Linked DNA regions of Homo sapiens. The protein of the gene in region 4 interacts with the protein of the main gene of each other region in a pairwise test. Each region holds a gene or a part of one and is shown on either strand. Other genes may lie near its edges.

The links.
Region 1: the proteins of TPD52 (region 4) and SPG21 interact in binary tests that used the Homo sapiens proteins (3 or more experiments, as listed by UniProt).
Region 2: the proteins of TPD52 (region 4) and THAP4 interact in binary tests that used the Homo sapiens proteins (3 or more experiments, as listed by UniProt).
Region 3: the proteins of TPD52 (region 4) and MIEF1 interact in binary tests that used the Homo sapiens proteins (3 or more experiments, as listed by UniProt).

Annotation. Positions count from the first base shown.
Region 1 is NC_000015.10:64,972,139-64,979,914, forward strand, and holds part of SPG21 (maspardin), read right to left. Parts: intron 4,418-7,776; coding exon 4,337-4,417; intron 2,610-4,336; coding exon 2,464-2,609; intron 1-2,463. UniProt on the Homo sapiens protein: May play a role as a negative regulatory factor in CD4-dependent T-cell activation.
Region 2 is NC_000002.12:241,626,777-241,634,552, forward strand, and holds part of THAP4 (peroxynitrite isomerase THAP4), read right to left. Parts: intron 7,304-7,776; coding exon 6,141-7,303; intron 1-6,140. UniProt on the Homo sapiens protein: Heme-binding protein able to scavenge peroxynitrite and to protect free L-tyrosine against peroxynitrite-mediated nitration, by acting as a peroxynitrite isomerase that converts peroxynitrite to nitrate.
Region 3 is NC_000022.11:39,497,330-39,505,902, forward strand, and holds the start of MIEF1 (mitochondrial dynamics protein MIEF1), read left to right. Parts: upstream 1-4,960; 5' UTR 4,961-5,108; intron 5,109-6,873; 5' UTR 6,874-6,901; coding exon of another isoform or gene 6,902-7,114; 5' UTR 7,115-7,205; intron 7,206-8,573. Other genes in the region: MIURF (mitochondrial ribosome and complex I assembly factor AltMIEF1), read left to right, coding at 6,902-7,114. UniProt on the Homo sapiens protein: Mitochondrial outer membrane protein which regulates mitochondrial fission/fusion dynamics.
Region 4 is NC_000008.11:80,161,294-80,169,069, reverse strand, and holds part of TPD52 (tumor protein D52), read left to right. Parts: intron 1-7,776.

The DNA.
Region 1 (7,776 bases), on a different chromosome or scaffold from region 4:
CTTGCTGGAAGTTGAGCTTCCCTCAAAAGGACCACTAGGTCACCTTCCAGTTAACTTTCTAAGTTCTCTCCCAGCCCCATCACTTTCTTATCTTTTGAAGGTGATGAGGTCTAAGTACGCTCTGTAAGGGGTGGACCCTGTTGACTTTGCTCACTCCTGGATCCTCAGTGTGTGGCACACAGTAAGCACTCAGATATTTGACAATAAGCAGCTGATGTGCCAGAGCACAAACTGAATGGGGGCTGTCTTGGCATTCTAACAATTAGAACAGCAATAAAAATCACCAAAAATAATGAGCATTATTTAGTGCATTATCTGGACGGGAAGGATTTGTAAAGTAGCTAATGTATACAAGAAATTGTTGCATGAATGCTGAGTAATTACTAAGATAACATCAGAAAAACTAAAAAATAGCTGGGCACAGTGGCTCATGCCTGTAATCCCAGCACTTTGGGAGGCTGAGGCGGGCGGATCACGAGGTCAGGAGATCGAGACCATACTGGTGAACACGGTGAAACCCCGTCTCTACTAAAAACATAAAAAATTAGCCAGGCATGGTGGCGGGCGCCTGTAGTCCCAGCTATTCGGGAGGCTGAGGCAGGAGAATGGCGTGAACCTGGGAGGCAGAGCTTGCAGTGAGCTGAGATCGTGCCACTGCACTCCAGCCTGGGCGACAGAGCGAGACTCCATCTCAAAAACAAACAAACAAAAAAACAAACAACAACAAAAAAAACTAAAAAATATCAGAGTGCAATTTTAAGTAGATGTGAAAACGATATTTCCCTATACATTATTTGAAAACACTGATCATACAGATGTGTTTACTCACTGGGCTTTTTTTTTGAAGTAGGGTCTTGCTCTGTCACCCAGCCTGGAGTACAGAGGCACAGTTGTGGCTCACTGCAGCCTTGAACTCTTGGGCTCAAGCGATCCTCCTGCCTCAGCCTCCTGAGTAGCTAGGACTGCAGGTGCATACCATGATACCTGGCTAATTTATTATTATTGTTATTTGTAGAGATGGGGTCTCACTATGTTGCTCAGGCTGGTTTCAAACTCTTGGCCTGAAGTGATCCTCCTGTCTTGGCCTCCCAAAGTGTTGGGAGTACGGCATGAGCCATCACACCTGGCCACTGGGCTTTATTTTAAGGCTAGAGCCTCGCCTTGCCAGCAATGAAAGAAGTGCACAGTAAGCCAGCTGTATGGCATCATAGATACCTACCAATTACTTAAAATGATAAAATCAATGAAAGGATGGCTCCTAGGAAACAAGTACCCCACTGGCTGCACCCAAAGCATTTCCACCATTTTGTTTTTGGTTTGTTTTTTTTTTGAGATGGAGTTTCGCTCCTGTTGCCTAGGCTGGAGTGCAATGGCGTGATCTCGGCTCACCACAACCTCCGCATCCTGGGTTCAAGTGATTCTCCTGCCTCAGCCTCCTGAGTAGCTGGGATTATAGGCATGTGCCACCTTGCCCAGCTAATTTTGTATTTTTAGTAGACAGGGTTTCTCCACGTTGGTCAGGCTGGTCTCGAACTCCCGACCTCAGGTGATCCGGCCGCCTCGGCCTCCCAAAGTGCTGGGATTACAGGTGTGAGCCACCGCACCCAGCCTCATTTCCACCATTTCTATCTTTTGGAAGAACAGACTAATATCAAGGGTCATGATGTGCAGAACATCTGTTGACAGACCAAATGCTCTATTCTTTCCATTTGGAGAACATATCTCAAGGAAATAAATTGGAAAGGGAAAAAACCCAGTAATTTGTACAAAGATTTACTGTAGAATGTGATGAAGAATTGGGAAAAGCCAAATGCCTAATAAAACTATGTCAGTCAATACACGGAACTGTTTACACATAATAATAAGTGGGATAAACAGAACATGGTATTAGTTACATAGAAATACTGAATAAAAACAGCAAAAGTATATTAATGAATATTAAACAAAATTTAAAAATTTAAGGTAATAAAAAAAGCTGAATTTAGAGTTCATTCAATTCTTTCCTTTTGCAAAGGTAATTGTTTCTAATTTTAAAAGCCAAGAAAGAGCCGGGCACAGTGGCTCATGCCTGTAATCCCAGAACTTTGGGAGGCCAAGGTGGGCAGATGGCTTGAGCCCGGGAGTTAGAGACCAGCATGGGACAACATGGCAAAACCTCATCTGTACAAAAATATACAGAAATTAACCAGGTGTGGTGCCATGCATGCCTGCCTGTAGTTCCAGCTACTTGGGAGGCTGAGGTAGGAGGATCGCTTGAGCCTGGGAAATAAAGGCTGCAGTAAGCTGTGATTGCACCACTGCACTTCAGCCTGGGTGACAGAGCAAGACTCTGTCTCAAAAAAAAAGCCAAGGAAGTTGCAGAATATAGAAGTAGATATAAGTCTTCCCTTCCTAATGTACCAAACACTCAAAAGCCAACATTTTCAAAATTTCACTGAACAAAAAAAGTAATTTTGTTCTTACCTGTTTGCAGTCCAAGTTTGGTTGAAGATAGAGGTGTCACTGAAGGAATTGCAGAGGATTAGGGAATGGACTCTAGGAGATTTGTGAGTGTATTCAGCAAATTTCTGGGCCAAAAAGCCTCCCAAAGAAGCGCCAAAAAGATGAACCTAATTATAAACAAATATAAGGCAGATTCTGAAATACTGATCAATCTTGAACCTGAGTATTAAAAAGTTGCTTCAATTATCACTAACCACAGAATATGTTATCACTAGCCAATAGACTAAAATATTTACAGCAGCTAGAAATTTAGAAAATATTGTATTTAAATGCAATTTATACAGTCCATCAAGATAATACAACTTGGCATCCAAGTTATATAATTAAAAAAAATATCATTCACAGATTGCATTAGAAAACAAAACCAGTCCAGGCACGGTGGCTCACACCTGTAATCCCAGCACTTTGGGAGGCCGAGGCAGGCAGATCACGAGGTCAGGAGTTCGAGACCAGCCTAGCCAGCATGGTGAAACCGTCTCTACTAAAAATACAAAAAAACTAGCCAGGCATGGTGGTGCGTGCCTGTAGTCCCAGCTACTCGGGAGGCTGAGGCAGCAGAATCGCTTGAACCTGGCAGGCGGAGGTTGCAGTGAGCCAAGATCGCACCACTGCACTCCAGCCTGGGCAACAGAGCGAGACTCCGTCTTAAAAAAAAAAAAAAAAAGAAAAGAAAAAAAGAAACCAACAAAACCAAGCTAGGGAAATATGGAAAAGGCCTGTATACTAAAAATACAAAAATTAGCCAGGCATGGTGGTACGTGCCTAGAGTCCTAGCTACTTGGGAGGTTGAGGTGGGAGGATCGCTTGAGCCCAAAAGGTTGAGGCTGCAGTGAGCCATGATTGCACCACCGCACTCCAGCCTGGGCAACAAAGTGAAAGCCTGTCTCAAAAAAAAAAAAAAAGAAAAAACTCAAAACCACTTAGTGGTTTATGTCTAAGAAAACTGTGATTCAGTAATTCCACCCCTAAACACATACCTAAGAGAACTGAAAACATATGTCAACACAAAAACTTGTACATGAATGTTCATGGCAGCATTATTCATGATATCCAAAGGGTAAAAACAACCCAAATGTGCATCAGCTGATGAATCGTTAAACAAGATATGGCATATTTATAAAAATATGATTTAACTGTAAAGAGAAACGAAGTATTGATTCCGGCTTCAACATGAATGAACCTTAAACTCACAATGCTAAATAAAAAAAGCCAGTCAAAAAGACCACATATGATACGATTCCACTTATGTAAAATATCTAGAATAGGCAAATCCATAGAGATAAAAATAAATTAGGTTGCAGGGCTAGTAGGGGGGAAGATGAGGACCGACTGCTAATGAATATGAGGTTTTTGGCATTAAAAAAATTATAAAACATTGACTGCAGTGATGGTTGCACATACCTGGGAGTATACTGAAAAACATGGAACTGTATACTTAAAAGGGTAAATTATATGGTATATGAATTATGTTGCAATAAAGCTATTATTAAAAAATAAAAGAGGGCTCGGCACGGTGGCTCACGCCTGTAATCCCAGCACTTAGGGAGGCTGAGGCGGGCGGATCACTTGAGGTCAGGAGTTTGAGAGCAGCCTGGCCAACCTGGCGAAACCCCATCTTTACTAAAAATACAAAAACTAGCCGGGCATGGTGGCACACGCCTGTAATCCCAGCTATTTTGGAGACTGAGGCAGGAGAATCACTTGAATCCGGGAGGTGGAGGTTGCGGTGAGCCGAGATCGCGCCACTGCACTCCAGCCTGGGTGACAGAGTGAGACTTCATCTCAAAAAATAAAAAAAAAATTGTATGTATGTAATTAGTTTCAGGGTACTCACTTTATCCAATTGTAAATGGTCTAAAAGTTTTCTGAATCCATCACAGAACTCGAGATGGTCCCAATAAACTGGATACTGCAACTGAAATAATAACGATAATTTTATTTTTAAAAATCATAAAAGTAAAAATGCAACTCACGTATTTGAAAAACTTAGGACTCAAACACTGACATTTCTCGTTTGCTCAAGCGCTGCTCCTTATTCAAAATATGTAAAAATAAGCTCTCACTTTTTACTAAACTTCATATTTCACATTTTTCTAACAGACCAAATTAAAAGAGTATAAAAAGTAAGCACACTCTAATGATATTACGTGAGTAACAATTTCAATTCCCATCAATTTCCTTTCTAAATAGCTGAAAAAGTCTGGGGTTCAAGGATGAATACAGCAGAACCCATTCCAGTAAAGAAATACCGTTTTCTCTTAAATCTAATTTCATTCAGAATTATGGCTCAGGAGAGATGGAAACAAAATTTGTTCTAAGGAGAGCTTCCTCTCTTTTTGGTAGCATTTCTTTAAGAGGGTATTCAGTAAAATTGTTCCTCTTCTTTTAAATGACTTAGTTACTCTATTTCATTTATTGTACTTTGGGGTGTCTGTTTGTTTCTTGAGACAGAGTCTCCTCTGTTGCCCAGGCTGGAGTGCAGCGGCGCGATCTCGACTCATGCCACCTCCGCCTCCCGGGTTTGAACGATTCTCCTACCTCAGCCTCCTGAGTAGCTGAGATTACAGATGTCCACCACCACACCCAGCTGATTTTTGTATTTTTAGTACAGACACAGTTTTGCCATGTTGGCCAGGCTAGTCTCGAACTCCTGACCTCAAGTGATCTAACTGCCTTGGCCTCCCAAAGTGTTGGAATTTTAGGCGTGAGTCACTCCACCCAGCTTGTTTGTTTTTGTGATAGGGTCTCACTCTCTCTCACCCAGGCTGGAGTGCATTGGCACGATTGTAGCTCACTGCAGCCACAACCTCTTGGGTGCAAGCGATTCTCCCACCTCAGCCCCCCGGTAGCTGGAATCACAGGCATGCACCACCATGCCTGGCTAATTTTTATATGTATACTTTTTTGTAGAAATGGGGTTTTGCCACGTTGCCCAGGCTGGTCTTGAACTCCTGGGCTCAAGCGATTTGCCTGCCTCAAGCAATATAACTGCCTTAACTTCCCAAAGTGCTGGGATTACGGGTGTGAGCCACCATGCCAGGCTACTGTACTTCTGTTTGTGACAAAAGAAGTATGGTACTTGACTATACGTAGCCTATCTATTAATGCTGGCAATGATGAGGAAAAAGAAGTACAAGTCACAAACTCATTTCTAAGGGACTCAGGTTTGTCCCCTAAGAATTCCTTTTTTTTGTTTGTTTGAACTGGGGTCTCGCTCTGTCGCCCAGGCTGGAGTGCAGTGGCGCGATCTCGGCTCACTGCAACCTCCACCTCCCAGGTTCAAGCGATTCTCCTGCCTCAGTCTCCTGAGTAGCTGGGACTACAGGCATGTGCCACCACACCCGACTAATTTTTTGTTGTTGTTGTATTTTTAGTAGAGACGGGGTTTCACCATGTTAGCCAGGATGGTCTCGATCTCCTGATCTTGTGATCCGCCTGCCTCGGCCTCCCAAAGTGCTGGGATTACAGGCGTGAGCCACCGCGCCTGGCCAAGAATTCCTTTTTTATATACATATAAAACCAACTGGCTGGGCGTGGTGGCTCACGCTTGCAATCCCAGCGCTTTGGGAGGCCGAGGCGGGTGAATCACTTGAGGTCAGGAGTTCGAGACCAGCCTGGACAACATGGTGAAACCCCATCTCTACTAAAAAATACAAAAATTAGCCAGGCATGGTGACAGGCACCTGTAATCCCAGCTACTGGGGAAGCTGAGGCATGAGAATTGCTTGAGCCTGAGAGGTGGAGGTTGCATGAGCCGAGATCATACTACTGCACTCTAGCCTGAGTGACAGAGTGAGACTCCATCTCCAAAAAACAAAAACAAAAACAAAAAAACTCCCCCAAAAACCTCGTCTAACAGGCTTACTGTTTAAGCACTTAGGTTCATTTTGTTATTGATGAATCACTGGAATGGATACTGCCATATGAATTATGGAATCATTTTAGATTTGATGTATGACTTTCATTATTAAAATTCTATTTGTGGATAAGACTTCCACCATTCCAAGAAAGAATGGGGAACTGATTCTACCTAGCAGAAAGTTTGAGAATTTGAGTCAGATGATAGCCTAAAAGAAAGGGGATGATACTTTCATGGAGTCTTTAATTTATAAATATCCATGCCCACACAGGTGACAAAATTATATGCAACTTAATACATACAAACAAATGAGTTCAAGCAGAACTGGGGAAGCCTGAATGAGATTGGTAGATTGTAGTAATATCAATATCCTGGTTGTGATTTTGTACTACAGTTTTGCAAAGGTTCGGCAGAAACTGGGGAAATGTGTAAAAGGTATATTTCTCTTTACTATTTTTTACACTGCATGTGAATCTACAATTACAACAACAAAAAAATTTAAATTAAAAAGATCTGTGCATTTTAACTGCTAGATACTAACAAATATTAAATAAGTTCCAAAACCTCATGGAGCTGAACATTCTGATCACATCTTGATGACAAAATAATTTTGAAGACACTGTTGACCTTTTCTTGATTAACTCTCCTCCTAATGAAACAGGGAAAGCGCACAACAAGAACCTTGAGAGTGAAGAAGAAACATCCAGCCAGAAGCCAAGGCTCTCATGACCTGCCACTGTGGAGCGAGAAACACACTGCTGGACAGCACTCCCGAGTGGGACGGGCGCCTATGGGTTGCTCGGTTTCCCCCTCCCTGGCTGATCAACAGGGGCCACCAAAAATGGTAGTGTCATGTCTCAGGCTGCAGAGGGCTGGGATGAGGGCAGTTCCCACCCTGTTCTAGAATGCTGTTTGTGAAGAGGAATGACTGAAAATCTGAACAAAGGAGGATTATGTTGCAGAGGCTCAAACATGTCACGTGAGGAATGGTTAAAGAAGCTGGAGAAATTAAGCCAGAGAAGAAAAGACCCAGGAGAAAAGCAGCAGGTAGTGATGATAACTGTTTTCTCAAGTAAGAGACGGGCTCTCAGGAGGAAGAGGAACTGATTTCCTTTGTGTGGCCTCAGTTGGTGGTAACCTCAGTAGAATTTTCAGTTACCTTCCAAAAGGAGAGACGTGACCTGCCTTTTCATCCCTTTAAACAGTAAATAAAACGTACACTAACAGCAGTACTCCCACTGGGAGTACCACTTACAAGTGAATACTGCAGGCGACTGCCAGCTAAAGAGACTCTCTCCTTCCTGGAAAATTAGGAGACCAATGTCCTGACCAATGTGGAAGCATGCAAAAAAAAAAAAAAAAAAAAAAATCAGTCACCAGGAAGAGTGCCTTTCCCACACACCTTTCTCCCAGAG
Region 2 (7,776 bases), on a different chromosome or scaffold from region 4:
TGGTCTCAAACTCTTGACCTTAAGTGATCTGCCTGCCTCGGCCTCCCAAAGTGTTGGGATTACAGGCATGAGTCACTGAGCCCAGCTAATCTGGATTTTTGAACAACTTTATATTGTGAAAAATCTTGAACATTACAAATTAAACAGATTAGTGTAATAAATCCACACACATGTCCCTAGTTTCACCATTTATCACTCTTCTGACATTCCTGTTTTGTCTGCACTTCTCCAAACTCTTCAGCTTCCATTTATTATTTATTAACAGATTGTTTTTAGGACAGAAAAATCCAGCAGGTAGTACAGAGAATTCCTTCACCCTCTCACCCCCTGCCCTGTTCCCCTATGATTAACATCTTGCATTAGTGTGGGTATGTGTGTCTCAAGTTACGAACCAATACTGATTCATTGCTACAAATAGGGTCCATAGTTTACATTAAGGTTCACTTGTTTTGTACTTGGATTTTGACAATCCAGATTTCAAGAATTATATGTAGATAATGAATCCATAAAGGAATAAAAAGAAAACAGATTTTGAAGCAAGTGTTAAATTGCTGAACTTAGGAAACAGGTGAATAATATTTAACAGGCGTTGGTATCCTTACTGTATCAAGAACGTTTATAACTCAGTGGGCAAGCAAGACCGCGAACACGTGGTTCATAGACGTGCTAACAATGTACCCTCAAGGAATCGCTGCTGGCGGAGAAGAACACTACGTCCACAGAACGCCACCGGGCACTGCCTCTGGAGCGTGGCTTCAACCCACCTCTGAAGCCCACTGGCCCGCATCCTTCAGTTTGGGGAACCTGCCCAAAAGCAGACACTGGCTAGCGAGCTGAATAGACAAGTGTGCGGCGCTTTCCACATAAATCCCTAAAGAATGACCCAAAGAGTCTGTCACTGAAGAACAAATCCACACGGACAGCAAGAACCACAGAGTGCAGACCCCAGGGCCTGCGACGCCGGCGTGACAGACTGCAACCCCAGGGAGAGGATGTCCTCTCCCCACCACACCCTCGCTCCTGCCACCCCTGTGCCCACACCGCATGCCCAGCCGTGGCCTGGCCTCACCTTTGGAGGGGCACAAGGCATGCAGGGTGGTGCCTGCACCTGTCCCTTGCTCTCCAGAGCCTGGCCCTTCACAGCCCTCCCCACTGACACACTCTCTTTGGAGCCACACTCCCTCTGGCTCCTGTCTACTTGCCTCACTCCACTTCACGGCCAAACCTGGCCCTGACCCCTCATCACTGGCCCCCTCTCCGCCCAGCTCCACCAGCCTCTCCAGTGAGATTCCAGTAACCAGCGACCCTGGGAGCACATCCAACCCCCTTCTCTCCACTATCCTGGGGCACATCCAGCCCCCTTCTCTCCATTCTGGTCAGAGTAGCACCCAGCACAGCAAGTCACCCTTCTTTCCTGAACAACCCCTCAGCCTTCCCCTGGACCCGCCTCGGCTGCCCCTCTCTCAGCGAGGCCTGCTCCTGGGCCGGGCACTGAAGCCCAGCCTAGAACCACACTCGACCCCCCAAGGCTTCAAACACCTCTGCCCTCCACCCCCACACTCACATGCCCAAATCCCAGAGGCCAGCTGCTGGCCTCAGACTGCCTGTTCAAACTCTGGCCTCAGCACCCAAGAGCATCTCAAACTCCGTTCCTCACCCCCATCTCCTGCTCCTCCCCAAAAGCCTCTCCCACTTAGCATCCTCCAGGTGCTCAAGCCTAATCCCTGTAGCTGGCCTGCTGATCTTTTGCCTCTCAACCCCCTGAACCCAGCCAGTACTCCAGCATTGCTACCACCGCCACTTCCTCCCTAAAGTCTGAGCCATCGCCATCTACCCTGGGACTGCCACAACAGTCACCAGCGCCCCCCTCAAAACTGTACTGGAATAGGATTTTTTTTTTTTAAAGTCATGGCTGGGTGCGGTGGCTTACCTGGCCAACATGGCAAAACCCCATCTCTACAAAAAAAAAAACAAAAAACAAAAAAAACAAAAAAACAAAAAAACACACAAAAAATTAGCCGGGCATGATGGCACATGCCTGTAGTCCCAGCTACTCAGGAGGCTCAGGTGAGAGGATCGCTGGAGCCCAGGGGGTCGTGGCCGCAGTAAGACGAGATCATGCCACTGCACTCCAGTCTGAGATTGTCTCAAAAAAAAAAAAAAAAAAAAAAAGTCATTAAATACTGCCAAAAAGGAGGGGAAACTTGGATACAGCAAACAATGGTAAATAAAGTAACCAGTAAAATGTATACTTCAATCTAATAATCATGGTTGCTTGATGGGGGAATAAGAAGCACCGGAACTAAGATGACATACAGCCTCCACCTAGGGAAGGTGGCACACAGGACCGATCAGCTCTCAACAGTTACACAAAGAGGGGCTCACGTGTTTGTTTTTAAAACTGAAAGATGGGCTGGGCACAGTGGCTCACAATTATAAACCCAGAGCTTTGGGAGGCTGAGACGGGAAGATCCCTTGAAGCCAAGGGTTCAAGACCAGCCCAGGCAACATAGTAAGACCCTATTGCTACAAAAAATTTTAAAAATTAGCCGGATGTGGTGGTATGTGCCTGTAGTCCCAGCTACTCGAGAGGCTGAGGTGGGAGGATGGCTTGAGCCCAGGAGGTCAAGGCTGCAGTGAGCTGTGATAGGACCACCACACTCCAGCCTGGGTGACAGAGCAAAGCCCTGTCTCTTAAAAAAAAAAAAAGAAAAGAAAAAATTGAAACATATCCACTAGAAGAATAATAAGAAAACGGTGAGGAAGCCTAACAAATTAAAAAGGTAGGCCCGAATTCCCACTTATCAGTAATCACAATTGTAAATGACTAAATTACTCTACAAAAAGACTTTTGGATTGAGTTAAAAATATAACTATAAAATAAGATGAAAAGGTTGAAAATAAGGAAATGAAGAAATAAGACGTTAAACGGGACAAAAAGGAGTTTCTTGTGTTGGTAACAGGAAAACTTATGCATCAAACAGCATGGTCTTGAGGCAGAAAGCAAAACTTGGACATACAAGCAGAAACGGGCACCTCCAGAACCACAGGGGAGGTCTACCTCACCTTTCCTGGAAATCAGCAGACCGAGAGCCTGACAAGAAGCTAGGGAACGCTCTGGTCCGCTGACTAACACAAGTAAGCAAGTGCCCAGCTTCAGGCGGGAACAATATAACCAAGGAGTGGTGAGGATACATTCTTCTAGCACTACACTGCAACAGTCACAAAAAGGGACTGTGTTAGCCACAGTGAAGTCTCAAAGGATTCCAAAAAGCAGAACTCCTTCAGTCCTTACCATTAGACCTTAATGCAATCAAATTTTAAAGTAACTACAAAAAAATTTGCTCCCCTCGCCCAATCTGTGTGCACTGAAAAATCTGTCAACACCCTTTTAAATAACCACAGGGTTAAAGGGGGCATCGAGGCTGGAATTACAAACGACTCAGAAATGAACAGCAACAAAAGCAGAGAGAGGCAGATCCATGGCACGCAGCCCAAGGAACAGCAGAGCCACAGCCTCCATTGCAGGGTTAAGGAACACGCCAGGAACCAGAACTACAAGAAAAAACCCAACAAAGCAAAAAGATGTAAGGATTAACCAGCATAAACAACAACTCAGAGACACGAAGGGCTGGCTGTTTGCAAAAACCTGTAATGGAGACAAACTTCAGGAAGTTTAACCAAGAGGAACAGAGAGAAGCTGTCTAAAGCAGCATTAGCTCTGATAACTACAAACAGCTTTAAAATTCCAAGAGAAGCTGGGAGGCCGAGGCGGGTGGATCACCTGAGGTCGGGAGTTCGAGACCAGCCTGACCAACATGGAGAAACCACTGTCTCTACTAAAAATACAAAATTAGCTGGGTGTGGTGGCGCATGCCTGTGATCCCAGCTACTCGGGAGGCTGAGGCAAGAGAATTGCTTGAACCCGGGAGGTGGAGGTTGCGGTGAGCCAAGATTGCACCATTGCACTCCAGCCTGGGCAACAAGAGCAAAACTCCGTCTCAAAAAAAAAAAAAAAAAATTCCGAGAGAAGGCCTGGTGTGGTGGCTCACAACTGTAGCCAACATGGTGAAACATCATCTGTACTAAAAATATAAGAATTAGCCAGGTGTGGTGATAGGGGCCTGTAATCCTAGCTCCTTGGGAGGCTGAGGTAGGAGAATTGCTTGAACCCAGGAGGCAGAGGTTGGAGAACTGCTTGAACCCGGGAGGCAGAGGTTGCAGTTAGCTGAGATCTCACCACTGCACTCCAACCTCGGCAACAGAGTGAGATGCCATCTCAAAAAATAAAATAAAATTCCAAGAGAAAAACAGTATACAATTTCAACCCAAGAATCCGAAAATCTAGATTTGATCTGAAAATCTAGGTCAGCAGTACTCAGTGGCACCGTTCCTCCCCAGGACACATCTGGAGAACATGTCGGATGGGCTTTGTTTTCGGTTGTGCTAATAGCTGTTACCCTGAGGATCCAGGAGGTCCTGAAAATCTTGTCCCACTATCATATACTTATTGACAAGCATTGATCCAGATGAAATCAACAATGTGGTAGGAATATGGTTTTCCTATGTACACGACAGGCAAAGGAAACCATCCGCCATATGTAAACATCTAGAAACCAATTTTAAGAAATACTTAACAGTAAAATATGGGAAAAAACAGAAATAGAGCTAATATACATACAAAGATTACACAGGAAATTTTGTTTTTTGAGACAGGGTCTCACTGTCACCTAGGCTGGAGTACAGTGGTGCAATCACAGCTCACTACAGCCTCGACCTCCCAGGCTCAAGCTATCCTTCTGCCTCAGTCTCCCAAGTAGTTGGGACCACAGGCGTGCACCATGGTACTCGGCTAATTTTTAAATTATTTATAGAGATGGGGTCTCCCTATGTTGCCCAGGCTGGTTTGAACTTCTGGACTCAAGTAACCTTCCCTCTTCGGCCTCCCGAAGTGCTGAGATTACAGGCAAGAGCTACTGTGCCTGGCTTACACACCAAATTTTTAATAACAACAAGGAATAGAACTTGGGAGGTGGATGACAAACAATAATTTTTTTACCACTTCTTAGTCTATTTCTGCAGTTTTAATTTTTGCAACAGAGAATGTATTGTATTTCTTTTTTTTTTTTTTTCTCTTTTGAGACAGAGTTGTGCTCTTTGTCACGCAGGCTGACAAAGAGTAGTGCAGTGGTGCCATCTCAGCTCACTGCAACCTCCGCCTCCCAGGTTCAAGCTATTCTCCTGCCTCAGCCTCCTGAGTAGCTGGCATTACAGGAGTGTGCCACCATGCCCGGCTGAGAATGTGTTTCAATAGATGTGTGTCTTTTTTTTTTGGAGACAGAGTCTTATTCTGTCACCCAGGCCAGAGTGAAGTGGTGCAATCCTGGCTCACAGCAACCTCTGCCTCCCAGGTTCAAGCAATCCACCTGCCCCAGCCTCCCCAATAACTGGGATTACAAGCGTGCACCACCATGTGCAGCTAGTTTTTGTATGTTTTAGTAGTATGTTTTTGTATGTTTCACCATATTGGCCAGGGTGGTCTCGAACTCCTGACCTCAAGTGATCTGCCCACCTTAGCCTCCCAAAGTACTGGGATTACAGGTGTGAGCCACCGAGTCCAGCCTCAACAGATGTTTTAATTGAATAGATGTTAAAATAATTATTAATGTTCATGATGATTTAACTTCAAGGATATTCCTTAAAACGTGAACAGAAAGAACCTCCTCATGATTTTAACAGTTTCTGATATTTGCTTTTTCTGAGAGTTTACTCTCTTATTTTCCATCTAGTTCCTAACTCATCTGGAATTTCTGTTGCATAAGGTATGAAACAGAAGCTATCTTTCCCTGTGCACTCTCCACGGAGGCGTTCAGGCACTCCTGGCTGACGCGTGCTGCCTGCCTCCTTCACGGCCTACATCCCTACACACACAGATGCCTCTTGTGGGACCAGGTGCAGTGAGGCCTGCTTTCTAACCTGGATTCCCTCATCCACAAGGTATGGTTACGACCAGAGCTTCCTCCTGAGAGCGCAGGGAGCTTGTGACACCTCCCAGAAATGCTCAGGGGACGCTGGCCACCTTGCAGAGAAACCCCTCCTAACGGGAAGGGAACATGGGTACGCGAGGCTCCGGTACTGACCGCGGCTGGGCGACAGCAGGCTACTTGGATAGGGGACGCTCACTCTCCTCAGCTCATCCAGCTTCTCCTGTAGCTTCCGCACCTGGCTGTCGGAGCGGCTGACCCTCTGCCGCAGGCTCTTCAGCTCGCCGTTCTTCTTCTCCACCTGCTCCCGCAGGCAGCACACCTGGCTCTTGTTCTGCCGGGAGGAGAAGCAGTAGGAGTGCAGTGAGTCGATGAGCTTGCAGGCCCCTGACGCCGACAGGATGACCTCGTTGATGGACATGGGGCTGGCGTCGCTGTGCTCGCTCTGCACGGCTTCCGTGGCTGGCTTTGGGGTGACGTCGGCAGGAGGGGCAGAGGGGCTCTGGGAAGGCTTCTGCGGTGTCGCGGTAAGTGATGAGCTGGGAGGGCTCTGGGCCAGGCCCTTGTCGGGTCCCAGGCTGCTCCCACTGCAGCTTGGTTCCACATCTTTCTTCAGCCTCTTGCGGTCAATGGGCTCTCGGGGGACAGATGGCCTTTCTCGGGTGTGCTTAGAGGAGAAACTGTACGAATGAAGTGAGCCGATAAATTTGCACGCCCCAGATCCTGGGGGCGTAAAGTCATCCATAGAAATGCCACTCTTATCTGTCACGCCCCCTTCGATGGAGGAAGTGGCGCTCTCATCGCCAGCATCTGTGGCAGACGCTTCTGCTTTTCCCTGACTGCCTGCCACCATGGTGGCCAGTCCATCTCCTGGAGTCCGTTCCAGAGCTTGCTGGGCCTGCTCCTGGCTGGCGGCCTCCTGGGCCGCCCTGGGTGTGGCTTCACCTTGCAGAGCAGCTTGCTTCAACCTGCGGGACTCTGGCTTGGCCATCGGGTTTCCACTCGAGGACGGTGACCAACCTGCAGCTCCTCTGCTGGTGGCGGCACTCGAGTGTCCCCTCACACCCCCTGTGGCCTTGCTGGCATCTTTTCTCCGGGTGCGGCCATGGCCTCCAGCCCCCCTCTTCTTCTCGGTCAGGTGGAAGATGGATGGCACGGCCGTGGGCTTCAGCAGGCGATGCTGGTCCTCCAGCCTCTTGGAGAAGCTGTCTTTGGTGAAATGCTCACTACAGAGAAATGAATACTTAGTGGGAGTCCAGTTATCCCTCTGAACAGCTTTTAACCATTGGATTAGACGTTTTGAGTCCTTTAGGGGGAACCTACAGGACAAATGACAAAAAGTAATTAGAAATAATTAAATGTCTCCCCTTAAAATAATCAACTGTAAAAGCAAAACAAGTATTTTTGCACGCACCCTAAGCCGTATTGACTTCATCCACTTAAAAAAATACTTCAAAAAGATTTAAAGAACATCTTCTACCTGCAGTTATTACTGGAGTAGAAATCTGAAAGACCCGTTGTCTACCCATACAGAGCTTATAGTCTGTAGGGCGGATGGGAAAGAAGGTAACCAACTGCTCCCCAGGCTGTGGTAAATGCCCAATGGGGACACAGGATGCTGACAGACAGTGCCAGGATGGCCTCAGGACAGCAGGAAATAGCTCCTAGAAGCTGACTGCTAACCAACCCTCCCAACTTGCCTGGAAGGTAGGACTCTGGGTACCAAAACCAGGGCCAGCATCCACAGACACTAGGGCGTGAGAGGTCAGGACTGCATGGAGGCAGCCCTGGC
Region 3 (8,573 bases), on a different chromosome or scaffold from region 4:
TGGGGTTTCGCCATGTTGGCCAGGCTGGTCTCTAACTCATGACCTCAAGTGGATCTGCCCACCTCAGCCTCCCAAAGTGCTGGGATTACAGGTGTGAGGCACCTTGCCCGGCTTCATCTTTCTTCTTTTGCGCTTCCACTTGTATATTTGCTTCTTCCTCCACTTAGCTCTCGTGGCACAGAGGTTTCCAAGAAGATGGTGCCAAGACCGAGAGACTCTTCCAGTCTTGACCAATGAATTCTCCATGAGGGCTGACACCAGCCCATATGGGCCTTTGTACTCATTGGCAAGGGCATCCCTTCCTCCAGACATTTTACTTCCATTTACTGGAAAACTGCCATCGTGCACTGATTTCGTTAGAATGATAAACTGCCTTCTGCCAAAGAAATGTCGTAAGAAACATACAGTTCTACAAGGTCTTGATGTGAAAGGTGCCCCTTAGATGTGGTACCTTTGTGCAGTGTGTGACATGAACAACTACGCCCAGCAGCCCTGCCTTGCCTCACATCCTAGCTCTGATTCTATCACTACCCCCAACTTTTTTTTTTTTTTTTTGAGTCAGAGTCTTGCTCTGCTGCCCAGGCTGGAGTGCAGTGGCGTGATCACGGCTCACTGCAACCTCTGCCTCCTGGGTTCAAGCAGTTCTCATGCCTCAGCCTCCTGAGTAGCTGGGATTACAGGCATGCACCCCCACGCCCAGCTAATTTTTGTATTTTTAGTAGAGACGGGGTTTCACCATGTTGGCCACACTGGTCTCGAACTCCTGTCCTCAAGTGATCTGCCTGCCTTAGCCTCCCAAAGTGCTGGGGTTACAGGCATGAGCCACTGCGCCCAGCCACTACACCCCAACTTTAAAATAGTCTATGGCTCCCCATCACAGCAGTGCCAAGTCAAAATTCTGCTATAGTTTCAGGGAGCCCCTGTTATCCTATCCTACTACTTTGTCCCATCCCCTTGGACTGCAGTAGACATCTAATTCAAAGGCAGCCAATCCACCTGCAAGAGGGCGTTCGGTGAGCAAGCTTACATTCCCTTTGTCCCTTTCAACACCACCTGGCACAATGTGGGCAGTGGAGATTTTACAGGTGAATGGGGGACCGGCCCTTCTGCCTGGGGATATCAGGTTCTTGTCTGGTGAATACAGGAATAATGACATCTGATGACAGCAAACCCCATTAAGAGGGAGGAGGCTCTCTCTTTGACAGTAATTTCCAAGTCGCTGGCTGGCTGACTTCCCAGAGCTTTCCTGATCTGGCTACAGGAACCAGGAACTCCTGATTCCTCTGTTCCTCCATCAGCCTGGAGTAACCCCTGGGAGGGGGTGGGGAGGAGGGGGTGGGCTGGACTGAGCTTTCTGCCTTATCATCCAGTAGCAATTTCCCTCTAATTCCCTCTAAGCATTTACACAGGGTCTCAATTTTATAAGGCATCCTACTGGGCAAAGCAAAGGGAACGAGACTGGTAAGACACAGGCTCCTCTGCCCTTTTGCTGGGAAGCCTGGGCTGTCCCTCCCTGCTCCCCCTGCAGCTAAGGGGCACCTGGCCTCTCTCACTGTCCCCTGTCTCCTCTGTGACATCACGCCATTGAGGGCTCCCTCTCTCTGCGTTTTTCAACTTCTCTCCCTCTTCTGGCTGCCCCCTCCCTGCATCAAGGCTAGAATAAATACCAGCCAACCCCTAAACAAACCCAGATGCAACACATACAATTGGCTTTTGTCCCCTGTAGCTGTCCTTTCATCTTCTCTTTCCCTTTCCAGCAAAATCACTGTCTCCATTTTTTCTTTTCTTTCTTTCTTTTTTTTTTGAGACAGAGTCTCACTCTGTTGCCCAGGCTGGAGTGCAGTGGCATGATCTCGGCTCACTGCAACCTCCGCCTCCTGAGTTCAAGTGATTCTCCTGCCTCAGCCTCCCAAGTAGCTGGGACTACAGGCGCCTGCCATCATGCCTGGCTAATTTTTCTATTTTTAGTAGAGATGGGGTTTCATCATGTTGGCCAGGCTGGTCTCAAACTCCTGACCCCAGGTGATCCGCCCACCTCAGCCTCCCAAAGTGCTGGGATTACAGGCGTGAGCCACCACACCCAGCCTCCAATGACATTTTATAATTAGCCACCCCTCACCTCATGCATCAGGCCTCACATGCCCTCTCTGATTAATCTTCAACAGCCTGATAAGCTAGTCCTTTCTCACCATCTCCAATACACAGGTGGAGGGACTAAGGCTCACGAAGCCCAACGCACTTGCCCTGCACTCACCACCAACCCACCTTTCAAATGAGACAGGCTTGATCACCCTGACCCAGGTGAAATGGTCCATCCCTCCTGTCTTTCCACAAAACGTTCATTCATTCAACAATTACACCCATTCACTACTATATGTGAGTCACTGTTCTGGGTAAGCGAGTGCTCCCCTCTCTCCCTCCAGCCATGATCACCATTAAGAGGCTGATGCCATCATCTGGATGTGAAATCAGGGGGGTTACTGTTAAACCTGCAATATCTGGCCGGGCGTGGTGGCTCACACCTGTAATCCCAGCACTTTGGGAGGCCAAGGCGGGTGGATCACGAGGTCAAGAGACCGAGACCACCCTGATCAATATGGTGAAGCCCCGTCTCTACTAAAAATACAAAAATTAGCCGGGCATGGTGGTGTGCGCCTGTAGTCCCAGCTACTCGGGAGGCTGAGGCAGGAGAATCACTTGAACCCGGGAGGCAGAGGCTGCAGTGAGCCAAGATCGCGCCACTGCACTCCAGCCTAAAGACAGAGCGAGACTCCATCTCAAAACAAACAAACAAACAAACAAACAAACACCCTGCAATATCAATCCAAGAGATCCTGGAATGCCTCTTGCCCTGTGAAACCTGGCAGAGCCCTGAGGTTTGGGTCAGTGCCCCCTGCCGTGGGTCTCTGGCCTACAAAGGCACCATGGGTACGTACATGTAAGTGCTAGATACCACCTCACTGCCCACACTCCATTGCCACGGAAGCATCGGGGGCAGGGAGAGGCCTTGTCAGTCTAAGTAAAGATAAGACCCTGAAGAGCAAGTGGATCTAGAGGGGCTGATCCGAAGGGGAGACCCCTCCAAATGACCTCCCTCTGTCCCTCCCTCCGAAAAATAACATTCCATAGAACAAGAAAGTCAGGAGAGATATGAAGAGGTCATCTGGTATGCCGATGGAAATGCCACCAATTATATTTATTTGGGTCACAAAATTCTTTAAAAAGCAAATTAGGGCAGCCTGAAAGAGTGGAAAGAACACACATTTCAGAGTAAGACAGACTTGGCTTCCACTGAAAGCTTCTTTCCTTCTTAGCTCAGTGTCTTAGAAACTACTATGCCTCTCTCCATCTTGGTTTTCTTTTCTTTTCTTTTTCTTTTTTTTGAGACCGAGTCTTGTTCTGTCGCCCAGGCTGGAGTACAGTAGCGTGATCTTGGCTCACTGCAACCTCTGCCTCCCAGGCTCAAGCAATTCTCCTGCCTCAGCCTCCCAAGTAACTGGGATTACAGGTACAATGCCACCACTCCCGGCTAATTTTTGTATTTTTAGTAGAGATGGGGTTTCACCATGTTGGTCAGGCTGGTCTCGAACTCCTGACCTCAAGTAGATCCGCCCACCTCAGCCTCCCAAAGTGCTGGGATTACAGACGTGAGCCACCGTGCCCAGCCCTGCAACAGACTCTTGATTGGTCTCCCTGCCTCAGCCCTGGTTCCATTCCGTTATTCTCAAGCCAGACAGATCCCATTGAAAGGGAAGTCAGATCCCAGCACTTCTTGGCTCTGAACCCTGCTGTGGTTCCTTTGCACCCGCCATCTCCCTCCCAGTTCTGGTAAGGGCCTCCCCTCTGGCCTCTTTCCCAGCTCCTGCTCACTCAGCTGCGAAAGCACTGGCTTTCTCCCTGTGGCTCCTAGACCACGCTGAGCTTAAAGGCTTACCTGGGGGGAGGCCTGAAATGCTCTTCCCTGCAATGTTCTTCTCCTGGTTCTCGTCCTTTTATCAGATAGCCTGACTATTCTGCAATTGCCCACCCCTCTACTGGTAGATATTACCTTTTAATCCTCACCACAGCCCCAAGGCTGGGTGAGGTTAGGAAACTTGGCAGAGGGCAGCTGTCCCTAAGTGGTGGAACTGGAACTAGGAGCCAGCGGTGGCCCCGGTGGCCCCGGACTCCAAAGCCCCAGGCCCTGGGCTTGGCAGAGCCAGGCATGGAGGGAGGCAGTTGGGGGAGGGAGCTTCCATAGAGACACGGCCTCCGTCCTCAAATCTAGTGAGAGACAGAGAAGCAAATGGATAAATTACAGTGCCTGGCATATGGTAGGCGCCAAGAAATACGTTTTGTTGTTGAACAGATTATGAGGCGTAAGATGTGCAGACATTTCCGTGGGGCCCAAAGAAGGCACGTGAGTGTGTTAGAGGGAGGCGAGGAAGGGGCTGGGAGAGATTTCCCAGTGAAGGGGGGCATTTGAGGTAGACTTTGAAGGAAGGGTAGGAGTTTGCCAGAAGCCATGGGGCCTGGGGAGTAGGAACAGCATGGAGGGATGAAAAGAAGGCGATCTGAGAAAATGGGTTTTGAGGAGCTCTGAATATTAGTGTTAGAATTCCCTCAGGTACCCCAGGGCCCCAGCCAGAGATCAGCATATACAGTACAGGAGGCTGGCCAGGTACCCCGACAGGCTAAGGGGTTGCCAGCAGGTGAGGGGCCTACCCGGTGCGGCAGCCTTGTTGGACAGCGAGGCTACCTCCTGCCCTCTGAACTTCTGCCAGCATCGGGACCACCCCGGTACCCACAGCCGGACCCGGACACCGGAGTCCTCTGGGGGCGGGGCGCGAGTGGCCTCTGCAGGCCAGTCCCTTGGTGAGGTCACACACGGAGGCGGGGCTCAGGATTGGGGGGCGGAATCATGCGCAGGGGGCGGGGCCCGAGAGAGAGCTTGGAGAAGACCGGAAGTCCCTCCGCCTCCACTCGCCCTCGTGCTCCCTTCAGCCCCTTCGCAGCTCCGTGCGCAAGGTCGTGTCCCGGAAGTGAAGGGGCCATGTTGATGGGTGACCCGGGGAGAGGTACCCGGCCAGAGGCGAGTCCTGCGGAGTGGTAGCGCGCACGGCCTGCGGGTGAGTGAGAGAAGGAATGAGGGCCGCCGGCGGCTGGGCGGCGGGGAGGTTGCAGCGCCTCCTCTCAGGCTGCTGCCGGCGCCTCGCATGCGGCCCGGAGTCAGGATACCAGCATGCAGCCGGGGGTCTCGCCCCATCCCGCCCTGGACTTTCCCCTGGGAGACCCCTCGGCTGCCCCGCCCCGCCCCAACCTCGGAGACCTCCAGTGCCCCGAAGCAGGCCTGCCCTGGCCTCTGGGCCTCCGCACCCCGGCCCGGCCCCCACGGTTGGTGAAGTGCAGACTGGCTGGGGCTCAGCCGCCCAGTCGCCCAGCGACCTTGTAGTTACAGCCCTCGCCGTGACAGTCGCCTTTTACAGCATCAAACACTTCTGTTGATTTTCTGCATCGGGAGGTCCTTAGGGCCGAGGGATCTCTTAAACAGTTGAGGAAAAATGGGCAGGGATGGTGGCTTGCTCAAGCTTGCGCAGGAAGTTAGCAAGGCCGGAGGCTAAGGGCTCGCGGACTTTGGGCCCAAAGTCCAATCTTTTTTTCCAGCCAAATACTTCCCCCACTTGGTGTCATTTCTTTATTTCTGAAACGGAGGTGATCATTTCTTCCACATAGGGACGTTGTGAAATTCTCTCCGTTACGCATAATTTTGAGCCCCTTGTATGTGCCAAGCGCTGTGCTGGGAAAGTTCGTGGAGCACCCAGAAGTGCTGTACACACGGTCCGGCTCCAGCAAAGGGTAACTCATTCCAGAGGCAGGCAGAGTTGGGGTCAGGAGTGCAGCCCTCCCCTTGACAGCTGTGGGCCCGCGGGCAAGTTACTTCCCTCTGGGAGATTGTTTCCTCCACTTAAAATGGGGTAATGTTGACCCCTAGGGTAGCTGACAGAATGAGTTGTTATGTGAGACATGCTTCGAACATTGCACGTTGTATATAGTGCAATATAATGCAATAAGCATTTACTGTTACTAAGAACCCTGACCACCTTCTAGATTCTTAATTTAAATGTGGTCATGGGCAACAAAGCACTTTACAGATATGCTTGTGTAAGGGTTTATTGTTACTGAAGGAAGGCAGTGGCAGTTTATACTTAAATGTAATTATTTATTGAGCATTTACAAACCTGGCTAGGTGCTACTAATAATATCTGCTGTTGATAGAGTGCTTCGTGTGTGCCAAGTGCTGTTCTAAACATATTCACATACATTAAACTCATTTAGTGCTTATGCCAACCGTATGGGCAAAATATGATTTTTATCCTCACTTCACAGATGAGGAACTGAGACAGTCACAGAGAGGTTAGGAGACTTGCCCACGGTCATGCAGCTCGTAAGTGCTGGTGCCAGGATTCAAGTATGGCTGAGTGCTTGTCTTCAACCCTCCTAGATCACCCCCTGTGGTGAAGTTCTATTACCGTTCATTACGTGCACAGTTCTCAAAATAATCCTATGTGGTAGGTACTATTGCCATAATATCCTAATCTCCATTTTATAAGTGAGGAAGCTGGTGCTCAGCGGGGGTTCAGTCCTTTGCCCAAAGTCATATGGCAAGTAAGTGGCAGGGCCAGGATTTGAGCCCTGGTGAACCACAACCTGTATGTTTCCAGAATGGGCATCCAGAGGCTGGGGTCTCTAGTTCTAGTCTTGCCATTAAGTCATACGGTGACCTGGAGCGGGGGGTCTCTGGAACTTGGATTAAAAAGCCCTCACATAGTCTCTACAGGTCCTTTTGTTATTAATTCTGATACTAGGCTTGTATGTCTTTCCTTCTGTTTATAGTGTGACACCCAGCCCCTGCCAGTCCCCCATGGCCCCGTGGAGCCGAGAGGCGGTGCTGAGTCTCTATCGGGCTCTGTTGCGCCAGGGCCGACAGCTTCGCTACACTGATCGAGACTTCTACTTTGCCTCCATCCGCCGTGAATTCCGAAAAAATCAGAAGCTAGAGGACGCTGAGGCCCGGGAGAGGCAGCTGGAGAAGGGCCTGGTCTTTCTCAACGGCAAATTGGGGAGGATCATTTAGGATCCTCCAAGGGAAAGAGGACAAAGGTGCCTTCTGTAGACACTCCTGCTCTCTTCCATCCCCATCTTACAGATGTATTAAGAAGCCTCAGGTACGTAGGCCCTCGTTCCTGTAGGTTTCCTTATTTTTTGTTGCAAGGGACCGAGAAAAGGATCAAAGTCATCCTTTTAGTCATTAGAAATCAGTGCAGAGCCAGGTGCACTGGTGTGCACCTATAGTCCCAACTCTGCAGGAGGCTGAGGCAGGAGGATGGCTTCAGCCCAGGAGGTTGAGGCTGCAGTGAGGTATGATTGCACCACTGCACTCCAGGCTGGGTGACAGAATGAGACCCTGTCTCTGGGGTGGGGGGGAAAAAAGAGGACATTTGAGGTCTGCCTCAAATGAGAAATAGAGGTTTACCAGCAGCAGGGCAGGAATAAGCAAATGCCTGGAGTGGGAACTGCAATTTTCTTTTTTAAGAGACAGGGTTGGCCCGGTGCGGTGGCTCACGCCTGTAATCCCACCACTTTAGGAGGCCAAGGCAGGAGGATCACAAGGTCAGGAGTTCGAGACCAGCCTGGTCAGCATGGTGAAACCCTGTCTCTACCAAAAATACAAAAAATTAGGCGGGCATGGTGGCGCATGCCTTAAGTCCCAGCTACTCAGGAGGCTGAGGCAGGAGAATTGCTTGAACCCGGCACGTGGAGGTTGCAGTGAACCAAGATCGCGCCACTGCACTCCAGCCTGGGTGACAGAGTGACACTCCGTCTCCAAAAAAAAAAGAGACGGGGTCTCGCTCTCGCCCAACCTGGAGTACAGTGGCATGATCATAGCTCTCTGGAACCTTGAATGCCTGGCCTCAAGCAGTCCTCCCTTCTCAGCCTCCTGAGTAGCTGGGACGCCAGGCATGTACCAATGTGCTCAGCTAATTTTTTATTTATTTATTTTTTTTGTAGAGACGGTCTTGCTATGTTGCCCAGGCTGCTTTCAAACTCTTAGCCTCAAGCGATCCTCCCACCCTTGCCTCCCAAAGCTTTGGGATTATAGGTTCAAACAGCTCTGCCTGTCCAGAAACTGCACTTTGTAGTCTGGAAACTTAAGTCTGATGTGGCCAGCATGGTACCCCTGTAAGGCAAATAGCCAGAGTTGAGGCTGGGCCTGGTCTGGAAGGACGTTGACTCCAAGTTGAGATTGTAATGTATATCTTCTTATGTGGGGACCATCACAGCTCTGTAAACAGAGGAATGACATAGCCACATTTGTATCGTAGAGGGAGCATACCAGTGGCAGTGTGAAGAATAAATTGATGAGAGATACTAGAGGCAGTGGATGTAGCCAGATCAGATTGAGGGACCGAGGGGTGGGGGTGGCCACATATAAACACAGTGTGTACAGCAGTGGGACTTGGTGATCAGTTGGCTGAGGCAGGAGGAGGAGAGAGAAAGATGAAGAGTAACTGGGTGTAAGGCCTGCCAGCTGG
Region 4 (7,776 bases):
GAGGTTGCAGTGAGCTTAGATCAAACCACTGCACTCCAGCCTGGGCGACAGAGCGAGACTCTATCTCAAAAAACAAACAAACACAAAACAAAACCACCTGGCCATTCCTTACTCTTGCTTCCACCTGCCTACCTGCCTTTTCATCTTTATGTTACCAGTGCACACAGTAGGTGCTTAGAAATATGTGTTGACTGCCTAAGATGAGTGAGGAAAGTGTCCAAGAGCAGGCCCCAGCCATAGTAACCTCTGTGTCCCTCCAAATCCATCTCTTGTTTCCCACTTTCTCCTGTTCTGTTTTCCCTGTCTATTCTCAAGAAGCAGAACTTAGCCAGAGAGTTGCTGATAAGGCAGTGCTGGGCTTGGAGGATAACTTTACATGGAAGATCTTAGAACTAGTAGAGTGGATGACTCAGTCTTAAGTGAATCTGGAGCAAGACTCCTGCCTTAAACTGGAAAAGGCACAACCTGGGATTTTAAACCTGGTGTTCACTAGCAAACTGTGTTGGCTGAAATAAGGTTTATCAAACTCTGTGATTGTCTCCTGAATTGTGATTTTGGCAACATACTTAAAACCAAAGCAGAAAATTTTAGGATTTGTTGAACTTTTAATAGTTTTTAATGTACATGGAGTTTTCTTATATTTGTCCCTTAAAAAATCCCTAATGAAACTCTAGTTGTAAAATTAAATGCCCTACCTCTTGTCTTACATGCATTTATCTATTGAAAATCCCTCTTCCAACCTTCTTATGTGAAGTTATCAAAAAATCTGTTCTTGCTACTGATTGTACTTAACAGAGCTGTAAATTTTTAAAATAAACACTGAGTTTTCCTTATGTTTTCAACCACGAGTATTCTAATGCTCTGTAGTATCAGGCCCAGATTCTGTTGTTTTTCTACTTTCTCTCATACCTAGGGCTTGAATACAATACTCTGCTTACAGTGAGAGTTCAGTGAACATCAAATGATTTAAAATACGTTAAATTGCATCATGCCTTTCAAGAGTTTCCAAGCATTAAGCTCAGCGCAGCACATTTACTGTGTGTGGTATTTCCTACTTTGATAGAGCAGTGTTGCTAACTAGAGCATACATTGTGTAGAAAACCCTCCTGACTACCTTTTATGGAGCTGAATAAATATGTATACTTGAGTGCTCTCATGTTAGTCATAACCTTTAGTTTAGCACTGTTATATAGAAGTGACAGTCACGTAGCCCACTACACATTATACTAGTTTGAATTTAAACAAAGCAAAACAACTTTATAATTTTAAGGGGAAGAGGAATGGTTCCTGAGGCCAAAAAACTAGAGAGGAAAGGCTTCAAAAAAAGAATAACACAATAATATGTCACTATCATTTTAACATTGTAATTGTGCCTTAGAAATAAATAACAGAAATGTGGGGTATCATTTATTTAAAAATAAAGCAAATGTAGAGAATAATGGATAATAATTTTGAGGGTCTACTCCCAAGTCTCTGGGTGTGACCCACCCCATCCAGGCTGTTAATTTATTTGGTCAACAGTTTCGTGATTTCCATATGGTGCTGATGTCTTTGTTAGCTCTTCTTCACTTCCTGCATTTATTTTTATGTGGCAGGCTGCCTAGTCCCTAGGGGAATAGCTGAGTGGTAGGAGGGGTTGTGATCTTTTAGCAAGATTTCAAAACAGAATAATGTATGCATGTAATAAAAACAAATACGCTCACTCACAGTGCAAAACCAAAAAGAACACCCAAATCCCTGGAACTTCTGTGCTACTAAGTCTTTTGTTGTAGGCTAAGATTATTTTCCTTTTGGGGTTAATTATTTCTGCCTTAATTATTGACTGTTGTGAAATCTCTCTTCTGAGACATTCCCAAATTTTATTTAAACTAGTGGGTACCAGCTGTACTGAAACCATAATTTTAGCCATGTATTTTTATTAGAAAAATGTTTCCAGGGGATTAAGGAATTTTAATATTTAGTGGAAGTTTTAAAAAAGAATGTAAAAATGCCTTTTGGAACCTAAGAATAGTTGTCTATTTTAGAAAAATCAGAAATATTGATGGAGAAAAAAGAAAATTACCCATAATCCTGTGCGAGAATGAGAAATCATAGTTAGCATATTAATTTATACCTGTTCATGTATCTATGCTTTAAACAAATCACAATTTTATTATTATTTTTTTTAACAGTGTCTCGCTCTGCCACCCAGGGTGGAGTGCAGTGGCGTGATCTCGGCTCACTGCAACCTCTGCCTCCTGGGTTCAAGCAATTCTCCTGTCTCAGCCTCCCAAGTAGCTGGGACTACAGGCGCATGCCACGACACCCAGCTAATTTTTTTGTATTTTTAGTAGAGATGGGGTTTCATCATGTTGGTCAGGCTGGTCTCGAACTCCTGACCTCAGGTGATCTGCCCTCATTGGCCTCCCAAAGTGCTGGGATTACAGGCGTGAGCCACTGTGCCCGGCCAACAAATCACAAAATTTCTTATTGAATATTGCATTTTATAACTTGCCCTTTTAAAAAAACCCTAAATGTATTTAAAAAATACACTTTAATGGCCGCATGTGGTGGCTCATGCCTGTAATCTCAGCACTTTGGGAGGCCAAGGCGGGCGGATCACCTGAGGTCGGGAGTTGGAGACCCGCCTGACCAACATGGAGAAACCCTGTCTCTACTAAAAATACAAAATTAGCCGGGTGTGGTGGCATATGCCTGTAATCCCAGCTACTAGGGAAGCTGAGGCGGGAGAATCGCTTCAACCTGGGAGGCGGAGGTTGCAGTGAGTCTCTCTCTCTTGCCCAGGCTGGAGTGCAATGGCACCAATTTGGCTCACTGCAACCTCCACCTCCTGGGTTCGAGTGATTCTCCTGCCTCAGCCTCTTGAGTAGCTGTGACTACAGGCGTGTGCCTCCACGCCATAATTTTTCTATTTTTGTAGAGATGGGTTTCATCATGTAGTCCAGGCTGGTCTCGAACTCCTGGCCTCAAGTGATCCTCCCGCCTCAGCCTCCCAAAGTGCTGAGATTACAGGTGTGAGCCACTGCGCCTGGCCTAGAGCAGCTCCATTTTTAATGGCCATTTGTATGTATTTATTTATAGATGTAACATTTTATATACTGTTATAGACAATATTTAACTTGTTCCCTGTTGATGAACATTTACATTTTGCCTTGTAGGGGAGGAAAAATTTCTCCCTACCCTTTTAGGGTTTCTGGCGAGGCCTAGGAATTAAACCAACATGAGATAGATTAACAGGAGAAAAGCATGCAAATTTTATTTAGTGCTTTTTATGTATTACATACCTTTTACCCTCACAAGAGGAATGAAGACTCAAGGAAGTGGCTTGGCCTGATCGATTATATACTAGGTCAAAAAAAGAGTGGCAGTTGTGGAAAAGTAACTAGGAAGGTAAGGTTTAGTTTAGCAAGGTTTCTTTATGCAGATTTCTTTGGGCTTGGACTTCCTGTGATAAGAATGTTTCTTTCTTCCTGGTAGAGGGAGGACATCTTTCATATGGGAGCTTCATCTTCTGCTTTCAGGAAAAAGAGAGGAGGTTTGGGTGCCCTTCTTAACACCTGCTGTTTTTCAAGTGCCTTTAGCCCAAAATAATCAGCATGCTAAAGTGGAATGTTTTGGGATGCTGTGTCCTGAACTCCTTCACCCTGATATTTTGCTGTTAAAACAAAGCTGCAGCAAATGTATGTGTATGCAAGTCATTCCATAAAAATGCCAGTGTGTCTGTAGGAAGAATTCTTAGAAGAATGTGGCTGTTCAATTTTGATAGTGCCAAATTCTGCTCCATAGAAGTGGTGCCAGTTATACTTCCACCAGCATGTGCGAGCGTTTGCTTTCCCTTGCCATGTGGCCAGGATGTTGCCACACTTTTCCATTGTTGCTTGTCTTATAGGGGAAAAATGGTTTCTCAGTATAAGTCTTACTATATATATTTAATATAAAGGTAGTTTACTTCTTTTGATATGTTTACAATCTACATGGCATTTTCTGTGAAATATCTGGCCATATCTTTTGCCAATTTTTCTATTGTATTTTATAGAATGTACCCCGTTTATGAGATGAGTTGTTAATTTTTTTTCTAGTTTGTCATACCTTTTTTGACTTTATAGTGATTTTTTTTAACCAAGAAGAAATACTAATAGCTCTTTTTTTTTTTTTTTTTTTTTTTTTTTTTGAGACATTGTCTCCCTCTGCCACCCAGGCTGGAGTGCTGGAGTGCTGGAGTGCAGTGGCATGATCTCTGCTCACTGCAACCTCTGCCTCCCAGGCTCGAGCAGTTCTTGTTCAGCCTCCCAAGTAGCTGGGATTACAGGTGCGTGCCAGCATGCCTGGCTAATTTTTTGTATTTTTTAGTAGAGATGGGGTTTTGCCATGTTGGCCAGGCTGGTCTCGAACTTGTGGCCTCAAGTGATCTGCCCACCTGGGCGTCCCAAGCTGCTGGGATTACAGGAGTGGGCCACCATACCCAGCCTAACTAATGGCTCTTTTCATTTATGGATTCTAGCTTTTGAATCATTTTTAGAAATGCCTCCCTCACTTTGAGTTTATGCTTTTATGGTTTTATTTTTTATGTTTAAATCTTTCCTCAATCTGGAGTTTGTTTTGATAATGAGATGTGAGGTATAAATCTTAACACCTCCACCTCCAATTGGCCACCCAACTGCCTAACACCATTCATTGACTAATGGCTTCTTCCTCTATTGATTTGAAATACCACTGTTGTCATGTACTAAATTCTTACATTCTTTTCTTTTCTCTTTATCTGTATGTTCATTGCCAGCAGCTAAACCTAGTTTAAGTTATTGTAGCTTCATAAAATGTAAAAATGTCTGGAAGGGCTAGTTTGCTCTGATTACTCTATTTTTTTTTCTGTCAGTTTTTTTCTAGGTATTCTTGCCAGACTATTTCCAAACGAACATTAGAATCAACTTATCTAGGTGAAAATTCAACAAAAATCATGCTGGCAGATCTTTTTCTCCTTCTCTCTCCTCCCCCCTTTCCCCTTTCTGTCTGTCTGTCTCTCTCTCTCTCTCTCTCTCTCTCTCTCTGTCTCTCTCTCACAGTTAGAATTTGGTCTGTTTCTTTATTCAATACCCCAATATATGTTCATTAGGGTTATACTGTATACACTACACATAACAGTTTTGTTTTTTGTTTTGGATATTATTTGATAATAAGAATTTTACCACATCATTAAAAAAAGTTTCCCCAAGCTATAATTTTTGATAATTGCACTCTTCCACTATTCAAATGTTTATTTAACTCTTTCTCTCCTGGAGTAGGTTTACATTCCATTTTAGCTATGATACTGCTTTAAGAGAAATTGTTTTAAGATAAATTTCCATAGACAGGTCAAAGGAGGTGAATATATGTAAGCTTTTCGATGCCTGTTACTGAATCTCATTCTGGAAAACATAACTGTCAATGCCCTCTTTTTCTCATGGTAAAAAAATACATAACAAAATTTACCATCTTAATCGTTTTTAAATGTACAGTACGATAGTGTTAACTGTATGTACCTTGTGCAACAGATCTCTGAAACTTTTTCATTTTTCAAAATGAAAACTCTGTACTCATTGAACAGCAGCTTCCCAACTTCCCCATTCCTCCATCCCCTACCCCTGGTAACAGTCATAGAAACCGTGATTTTATGAGTTTGACCACTTTAGATACCTCATATAGGTGGAATCATGCAGTATTTGTCTTCTTGTGATGCTTATTTTATTTAGCATGATATCGGGGCTCATGCGTGTGTAGCACATGACCCAATTTCCTTCTTAAGGCTGAATAATATTCCATTGTATGTATGTACTACATTTTCTTTATTATTTATCTATCAGTGGAAATTAAGGTTGCTTCCACATCTTGGCTGTTGTGAATAATGCTGTAATGAACATGAGTGTGCAAATATCTCTTTGAGAGCCTGTGTTCACTTCTTTTAGAAATATACTCAGAGATGGGATTGCTGGATCATATGATAATTCTGTTTTAATTTTTTCAGAACCTTCATACTGTTTTCCATAATAGCTTTACCAATTTACATTTGCACCAACAGTACACAAGGATTCCAGTTTCTCTCCATCTTTATCAACACTCGTTATTTCCCGTTTTTTTTGTTTGTTTGTTTGTTTTGTTTTGTTGTGTTTTGAGACACAGTCTCACTCTGTCACCCAGGCTGGAGTGCAGTGGCTCAATCATAGATTACCATAACCTTGAACTCCTGGGCTCAAGTGATCCTCCTGCCTCAGACTCCCAAGTGCTGGACTTACAGGTTGAGCCATTGTGCCAGGCTGTTTTGCCTGTTTTTGATCAGATTAGTTGTTGAGTTGTACGACTTTTTTATATATATGTTCTGGATATTAACCCTTTATTGGATGTTTGGTTTGCAAATATTTTTTCTTATTACGTAAATTGCCTTTTTATTGTCTTTTTTTTCTTTTCTCTTTTTAAGAGATTGAGTCTTTCTCTTTTGTCCAGACTAGAGTGCAGTGATGCAATTCTAGCTCATTGTAGCCTTGAACTCCTGGGCTCAAGGAGTCCTTCTGCCTCAGTCTCTCTAGTCATTTCCTTAAAAAAAAAATTACAGAGCTTATAGGCTTCAATTTGTCTGTTTCCTAGAGAGGTTATAGATGTTATTATCCATTTGTATTTCCCTCTAGAGATTGTTACTTATCTACTTTGGGATCTTAGTGTGTCTTGCCTTCTCATTGTTCTCTGTCACCTTCCCTCCTTGGCAAGTATTTACTTTTTCTATTTTGCTTATCATTTTGGTTATGTTGGATCTTTCAATGTTATTTTTATTAGCAAAATACAGTATTAGGAGCAAATATTTTCCAGGTGACATTTTGGGGGTAATTTGCATGGCTTTCTGTGGCTTTCAGTACTTCCTTCTTGGTGTCTTTTCTGTTTAGACACTTGTAATTGGTACTAAAAATAGTGATTTCAGACAGGCTATTAATTTACATGCCTTGGCTCATAATCATGGTGAGTGTGTTTTATGTTACAGCTATACAAATGTAAATGTCAGTTTTAAAAATTATTTAAGGCCAGGTGCGGTGGCTCACACTTGTAATCCCAGCACTTTGGGAGGCTGAAGTGGGCGGATCACTTGGGGTCAGGAGTTCGAGGCCAGCCTGGCCAACATAGCGAAACCCTGTCTCTACAAAAAATATAAAATTAGCCCGGCGTGGTGGTGCATGTCTGTAGTCCCAGCTACTCAGGAGGCTGAGGCAAGAGAATCGCTTGAACCCAGGAGGTGGAGGTTGCAGTGAGCCAAGATCATGCCTCTGCACTCCAGTCTGGGTGACAGAGCGAGACTCTGTCTCAGAAAAAAAAAAAAATATATATATATATATATATAAATGTGTTCTTGATAAAAGTTTTGGATTGGGAACTTATTAACAGGATGAAATTTCACCCATTGTATCCTTAGTTTATTTGGAGGCATTGTGGTGTGGAAAAGGAGCTTATGGTCCAATCAGGAGGGCTTAAGAAATAAAGATGATAGTTTATCCAACCCACTAGAATGTGTACTTGGCTAGAAATAGTGTCACTAGAATAGGAGACTGCCTTACATTTTATTCCCAGCTTGCAGTTCAAGTATGAATGTAGTAGGTACTCCATAAATATTTCTCATATTGCACATACATCAATCAAAAAGACTTCTAGCATTAATAGAGTCAGATGGATTTGGATAGAAAAGACTAAGAATTAAAGAAGGAACATGGTTTGGCAGGGAGATAGGAATATATGTTCTAAATATGCTTATAGTCTTACATA